2 linked regions of the Homo sapiens genome follow. The protein of the gene in region 2 interacts with the protein of the main gene of each other region in a pairwise test. Each region holds a gene or a part of one and is shown on either strand. Other genes may lie near its edges.

Region 1 (3,748 bases), on a different chromosome or scaffold from region 2:
CTCCAAGACAAGAGAAGGGAATTGGTCCTTTCTGTGAAAGGCAGGACAGAATATCAAGAAATGTTTGTCTGTCTCCTGGCTCACAACGGCCTTGGGGCCATGTTCTCTATCTCCTGAGTACTGGAGAACAGAGAAGCCTCAGAAGGCTGATATTGGGAAGGTGAAAAGAAATAAGAAGATGGAAGGAGGTGTTGGAGAAAATAAAAACAAAATCTCCTGCTAACCCAGAAAATCCCCTTCACAAACGTAGAAAAGAAGGAGAACAGTTTTATTACCAAATAATATTGAACTGGACTGGGAAGCACATTGTAGACAATCTGCTAATCAGATGCCAGACAGAAAGAGATCTTACTTTTTATCTAGTTGGGCAGATACAATCTATTACAAACATGTCCTCAAAATTAATGGTAATTTGCCCCCTTGTAAGAGGATTTGACATTGTTTGCTATACAATTTTTCATAATTCATTCTAAATTCACCTGGTAATTGGAGTAGCCATCTACACTAGTTAATTGCCTTTATCAAAAAGAAAAAATAAAACTTTTATCTGTGACAAGCGGGCAGTTACGAGTTTGGAGCTAGGCACCTAAGCTAAACTCCCAAGGTGACAGGGAGATAAGGGCACTATCTTCTTCACTGTTTACATTTCAAAGAGATGGCTCATCAGGCCTTTGGGGGAAACATTCCTCTTTTGTAAAGTTGGCAGGTGCTTATTCAGCCTTTCAAAAGTATCAGGTACATATCAAAGGAGCACTTATACATAGATTTCTCATGGAAATACTCCAAGGGCGTGAGGTCAGGTTTATTTCCCCTTCAGTAACAAGTAAAATTTAATTCAATTTGTATTTGCCATTAAGATTTAAACGCGCCTCCTATGAGCTGAAGGTCTGATCTGCAAACCCCTAATTGCCGTGTTGCAGAAGGTACCAGCGTAGCCCAGTTTTAAAAATATTATTAGTTTTAAAATATATACATTTAACTCCTGGGCTCAAGCCATCCTCCAGCCTCAGCCTCAGCCTCCCTCGGGGTTACAGGAATCCCAGGCGCGCGCCACCACGCCCGGCTCTAGTAGCCCAGATCTGAACCGGGATCTTAGATAAGAGGCCAGAGAGCCAGACTCCAGCCTGAGTGAAGCTTCCACCCTCCAGAAACTGGATGAGAGTCTGTCCCTAACTTTGAGGACTTCGACAAGAAAGGTGACTACAGGCCACCCACAGGAGTGCACTGGTGTTGAGGGTAAGGGTTCAACTGAGACGCTGGGAGGCGGCTTTGCCCTGCCTGTGTGTCACAGGCAACACGAAGTCGAATCTACATAGTGCTCACGCAAGGTAGTTCGCGTGCTATGGAGCCTCAGCCCAGGGAATTCAGGTGGTCCGGTGCAGTAAACTCTGTACCCAACACACGCCTGACAGACAGCGCATTGCTCCCGCTAGATTCGCCAATCGGAAATGACTTCTCTCGTTGACCCCAGCTTCCGGAAGCGCCTGCGGAAGCTGCCGCAGAGGCTTGTGGGGAGTGTAGTCTTTTTTTTGCAGAATGGGCCAAGGGGACAGAGACTTCACTCGGGAGCCAGAACCTGTTTTCAACATGGGTATTTTAAGAAGAGACGGAGAGGCTGTCACTGCAGTGGTCACTGTCCTGGAAAAGTAACCGTTGCACGGCCCAGAAGTGGCTCTGTGGCGGCCAATGGGAGCCGAAGCCTGCGAGGATGTTGGGAATTGTAGTTCTGGCGTCGGTCGGTGGCCGAGATCCCGGGCACGCTGGCTCTGGTGAGCGCGGCCTCCGCGGCTCCTTGGCCCCAGGATGCCCTCTCTCGTGGGGAAAGGAGGGTCGGGAAAGGCCGAGCGTAGGTTAGGACGCGGGGTAGAGTGTGGCCAATGGGGAGTGCGGGTTGGAGATATTTGGTTTTTGGAGGAGAGGGCGCAGCTCGCGGTGCTCATTGGGGCGAGGCGATGGGGTGAGCCCCTGCTTGCCCGGACCTCCGCGGACCTTTTTTCCCCCCGGGGGGACGAGAGTGACCTAGAACTCTAATGCCTGTCTTGAACCAGGCGGGATTATTCTGGGTCAACCAGTTTTCGAATACGGAGGGCGGCCCCAGTCGTGCGTCCTGGGGTTTATTTGGGCTGTGGGGTTGAGTTCTGCCAGGGCCAAATGGACCAACATCCCCGCGGCTGGGGTGGGGACGTGGCTAGGTCCGCACATCCCTGGGTGGTTTTTGGCTGGGGAGCGTCTTGAGTCCTGCATCACCGAGTTTTTCTGTTTTTTGGGTGGGGCTGGATATGTCCCGAGTGGTGACCGGGGTGGTTAGGGGGAGGCCGTCTCAGGCCTTGATGCTTGATGGACCTTGGTTTATTAGGGGTTGGGGGGTTGGAAGTGGAGGTGAGCTTGACGTGGTCAAAATATCCTGAGAGGGCCTGGGCGAGTGTCTTGGGTCAGGAGTCCCTGGGGTTTTTAGGGAGGTGAGGGAGGTTTCGTCCTCTGATAGTGGTGGGCTGTATCACTCTGACAGGCATCTAGGCAGCTCTTTTGAATGGGGGCAGGTCTTTTCTCTGGGACCTGTTGTCTCAAGGTGTGTCATGTGGGAGGTGCCCCCTGTGCTTTGTGGCAAAGTTCCTGGGTTTGGTCGTCATCTGGGTGGCCCGTCTGGCTGACTCCTTTCCTGGACTGCTTTTCCCTCACATGTTAGGGCCAAACATCTGGTTTGGGGCTGTGAAGGGTTAGGTCTGGTGGGGAACTCTGACGGCTTCTAGTTAACAATCCAAATCACTTCCGGCATATGGTGAGTTCTGGATATCAGGCGTTTAATTTTATTTTTAATTTTTTCGTAGGGACAAATTTTAAACCTACCTAGTAGAGCTATTCAGTGAACTGCCACGGACCTGTCACCAGATTCCACATTTGTTAACTCATGGCCAATTTTGTTTCATCTACATCCCCTCAACCCTATGTGTGGATACACTTTGAGAATTGTCAGACCCCACAGGGATTGGCCATTGCTGACATCATTACTGGCCCAGCTGGCTAAGCGTGTGGCGCTCCACAGCTAGACTTCAAATCTAGGCACTTTCTAGCATTGTCAATTTGAGGAAGGTGTAGAACTCATGGAGCTTTGGGGAGGTAAAACTTGCATGGTGTCTGGAATTGCCTCTGGTATACAGTAAGAGTTTAGTAAGTGTTAACTATTACTAATAGTATTATAATTTGAGGCCCATAGGCATTAAAGGGATAAATATGTAATAGCAGCTTGTCAGGGCAGACTGTATTCTGATGTCCCCACATGGTTCTGTCCCCTAGAAGCTGTTTACATTATTCTCTTCTCTGACAGATCTGAGGCTTATTTTGTTAAAGGAAAAGGAGGCCTGCTCTTTTTTTTTTTTTTTTTTTTGAGACACAGTTTCACTCTTGTTGCCCAGGCTGGAGTGCAGTGGCGCGATCTCGGCTCACCGCAACCTCCACCTCCCGGGTTCAAGCGATTCTTCTGTCTCAGCATCCCGAGTAGCTGGGATTACAGGTGTGCGCCACCATGCCCAGCTAATTTTGTATTTTTAGTAGACACGGGGTTTCTCCATGTTGGTCAGGCTGGTCTCGAACTCCTGACCTCAGGTGATCTGCCTGCCCCGGGCCTCCCAAAGTGCTGGGATTACAGGCATGAGCCACCGCTCCCGGCTGGCCCACTCATTTTATTTTTTTATCTTTTTTTTTTTATTATACTTTAAGTTCTAGGGTACATGTGCGCAACGTGCAGGTT
Region 2 (3,748 bases):
TAATCATATTGACTACTGCCTCTAACCAACGAGAGAGAGCGGGCATCTTTTTCTCATTCTTAATTTCTGTGGAAGGCCTAGTGTTTCCTTCTTAGAGATATTTTATCATGTCAAAGGAAGTCTCTAATCATCCTCATTATTCAGATGAGAAACTGAGATGCAGAGATCAATGAAGACCTTGGCTCAAGATCACACGGTTGGTAGATGGCAAGCGGCAAGGCTAGGGGCTGTCTGGCTTCAAAATCCCCAGTCTTTGCATCACATCTAATTTTCCCTAGTTTTCATGGAAAACTGACCCCACCCCCTGTCTTCCATTTCCCAACATGGAACTCACATTTTAAGAGATCTTAAGAGGTTTAAGAGTGGCCGAGTGTGGTGTATGAGAGGGGCATGGAAAGAGGCCCTGAGTGCCACACCCTAGTCTCCCTCTGTTTTCTTTAGCAGTTCTCTTGCTTTCCAGACACATTCAACTTCCAGAAACCACCTTTCTTAGAAAGCAGCTTAGTGACTGGCTGGGCACGGTGGCTCACGCCTGTGATCCCAATACTTTGGCAGGCCAAGGCTGGTGGATCACCTGAGGTCAGGAGTTTGAGACCAGCCTGGCCAACATGGTGAAACCCTGTCTCTACTAAAAATACAAAAAAAAAAAAAATAGCTGGATATGGTGGTGGGCACCTGTAATCCCAGCTACTTGGGAGGCTGAGGCAGGAGAATCGCTTAAACCCGGGAGGCGGAGGTTGCAGTGAGCCGAGATTGCGCCACAACCTGGGCAACAGAGTGAGACTCCATATCAAAAAATAAATAAATAAAAATAAATAAAGAGGCTTAGTGGCCACCTGTATTATATGAACAAGACCCTTGGGAAGCAGGCTCATGCCTCCTTCTCCCCCTCTCCCATCAAAATATTTCTTCCAATCATATACCTCACTCTTCCTAAGAGGAATGAATCTCTCTAACGGACTTTTCTCTGGTAGCTACATTTCTAACCATACTGTAGTGTCCCTTATAGCTTGGCTGACAAAGAAACCGCCCCACTGGCCTGCTCTGACCAAACAAATTGCACTGATTAAGAAACAGGCTGAGTGACTTTTTCTTGGGGAAATGTGTTCAGGCCTTTGCAGATTATGATTCTGCCCCCATCACCTACTTTCCAGGGATACCAGGTTGTAAATCATGAACAACAAACCCTGTTGCCTTTATTTATTCTCAGTGGAGAAGGATTAGTTCTTGTTTTTTTTTTCTAAAAAGAGAGCCTTCTAGGACCACAAGTTCTGTGGGAGAAACCTGGCCCAGATCTGGATTGCCTGAGTTTCCAGCATGTTCTTCAAGTAGGCAGATTCCCTGAGTATGGGCTGTCTCTGTGCAAGGGACAGAAAGACGGGCTGTGAACAGCAGGAAAAATAGTCAAATCAGGTCCATTTTAAACTCTAATCCTTTGCCTTTCAACAATTTTGATTTCCCATTTTCTCCAGCTGACAGCCTTATCCTTTGGAGGTATAAGCTGCAGTTTTCTCCCATGGAGACCTAGACAAATGTCCTGGCTCCTTAATTTAGAACCTCTGCGCTCCCCTTTCTTCCTCAGGCAGCTTCATTCTCCCCCTGGCTTCAGCTGTTCCTTTTGTTTTGACACCTGGTCTCTGAGGGCTGCTCCTCTGACCCCACTCTCCTTTCATCTGCAGCTCCGAGGCACAAGGCTGCCTTATTCCAAGCTTGTGTTTGGCCTATTTGAGGATGAAAGGGCCTGATGTTGCCATCAGAGCCTATTGTCAGCATCGTTCATTTGGTAAGAAAAGTCAGGAGCACAGAGCAAGGCTGGAGAGGGAAATGGCCCAGGTCTTCCTCAGCCTCTGTAGTTGCCACCTGGGGTTTTTCTGTCCGTTTTCACCACTTAGCGAGGCTTGGAGGTTCTAACACAGCTGAGGAGTGGGAGGAGAGAGGTTTGGAATTGAAACAGAACTTCATATGCATGAACCCTAACTAGGACCAGCTATATAATTTGCGGATCCCAGTGCAAAATGTGGGGCCCCATGTTCAAAGAGCAGGAACAAAGTGCGATTTAAGTTACTCAAATATAATGCTTTTTCCTTTCTTCTGTCATGTTTCAACTTGTTATGGTAATTTTTATCTGCTATTTAATTTCCACTCCCTGGGGAATGGGGATGCTCATGCAGACCTTTATAGGCATCCAGAGGCCTCGCTCCATGATTCTGGGCATGTGCATACCCCACCAATGGCTGCGGTACCTTTCTTACCGGCCATTGGACCGATGTACCATGTCCTGCTGGTGGGGTGGGGTGATAACCCCCAAGAATATTACGACCTCAGTGCCACCTGTAGGTACCTGGGTTGGGGGTGAGCAAGAGGCTTGTCCTCTCCCTCCAGTTGCTGCCACCCAGGGGCTTGGAGCAGGTGTCAGAAGGGGCTCCCAGGGGCAGAGAGGTGGGCCAAGAACCTGTTGTAGGGAGACAGAGGGAGGTAGGACCATTCAAGAGCCCCTGGTCCATACTCCATTGTCCCACAAGACTTCACTTTTAAAACACAAATTCAAAGATAAAACTATTGGCTGGGCACGGTGCCTCATACCTATAATCCAAGCCCTTTGGGAGGCCAAGGCAAGAGGATCTCTTGAGGCCAGGAGCTTGAGGTTGCAGTGATCTCTGATGGCATCGCTGCACTCCAGTGCAGCATCCTATGAGACTTCACTGGTGGTGCACCCATGGAGCCAACCCTGGCCCCAAACTTACATAGTGATATAAGGATGAGGAAGATTCCCCCCTCCCCAGGACGGCCTTCCTGATTCTGCCATGGTGTGAGCCCTCCTGGCACCCTAGTTTCGTGTTGCTTTCCATGATGTGACTCTCTGCACAGTGACAGCAATTGTTTCCCTCCTCCTGGCTCCTCTTCCTGGCTTTTCTGAAAACCTGTCTTTGTCTCCTCTGGGTGGGGGTGAGACAGGCTGTGGGGAGATTCCAGGGGACAGGGGACCCCCACTCCCCAGAATGGCCCCAGGAGCTTTCTGTGCTAGCTGGGGTGGTGATGGCAGGGAGGAGAGCCTGTCTCCTTTCCAACTCTTCTCCCCCTCTGAAAGCAAGAGGAAATGTTGTTTCCCAAACATTTATGGAAATTGTTGCCTGCTCTGACCTTCCCCACTGCTTGCTCCAGCCTGATCCAAGAAAGTGCCACCAAAATGGACATCCCCACCGTGCTATTGAGTGACTGAGGTCTCTCTTGGATTCTCTGTTTGGGGCCCAGGCTAAGGAGGTCGAATTTCTCTCTAGGTGCCAACTTGGGGCTCAGTTGCTGAGAGCTTGCTCTGAGGCCTCAGGCCCTGCATGGGCCCTGAGGAGTCACAGAGGGTTGCCATGGAACTGAGCTGCAGGACCAGGAGGAGTTCTGTGGACAAGGGGGGGAAGAGGCAGCTGCAGGTGGAGAAACAGGAGGGGTAAGGAGTGCTGTGAGGAGCACGGAACACCAGAGCCCAGAGTCTGGAAAGGTGGGCATGAAGCCCCAGCCAGAGTGGCCTAAGTGAGGGCAGAGGGAGAGAGCTCTGGATTTCTGGGGCCCAGGACCGCAGAGTGGCTGCCTCTGACCCCAAGTGAGATGAAGGCAGCGTGTTGTGGAAGGACTGGGCTGGGAGGTGGCCTTTCCTCTAGGCCTGGAAAGGGGTGGGGGCCTGGTGGGGGCCTCCTGCAGCTCCACGAGGCCAGATTCACTGAAAAAATCAGGAGCATTTCTCAATTATGGAGTT

What was found. The genes of interacting proteins can lie anywhere in the genome.
Region 1: the proteins of BFSP2 (region 2) and ZNF343 interact in binary tests that used the Homo sapiens proteins (3 or more experiments, as listed by UniProt).

The regions. Positions count from the first base shown.
Region 1 is NC_000020.11:2,506,902-2,510,649, reverse strand, and holds the start of ZNF343 (zinc finger protein 343), read left to right. Parts: upstream 1-1,734; 5' UTR 1,735-1,769; exon of another isoform or gene 1,770-1,850; intron 1,851-3,748. UniProt on the Homo sapiens protein: May be involved in transcriptional regulation.
Region 2 is NC_000003.12:133,403,021-133,406,768, reverse strand, and holds part of BFSP2 (phakinin), read right to left. Parts: intron 1-3,748.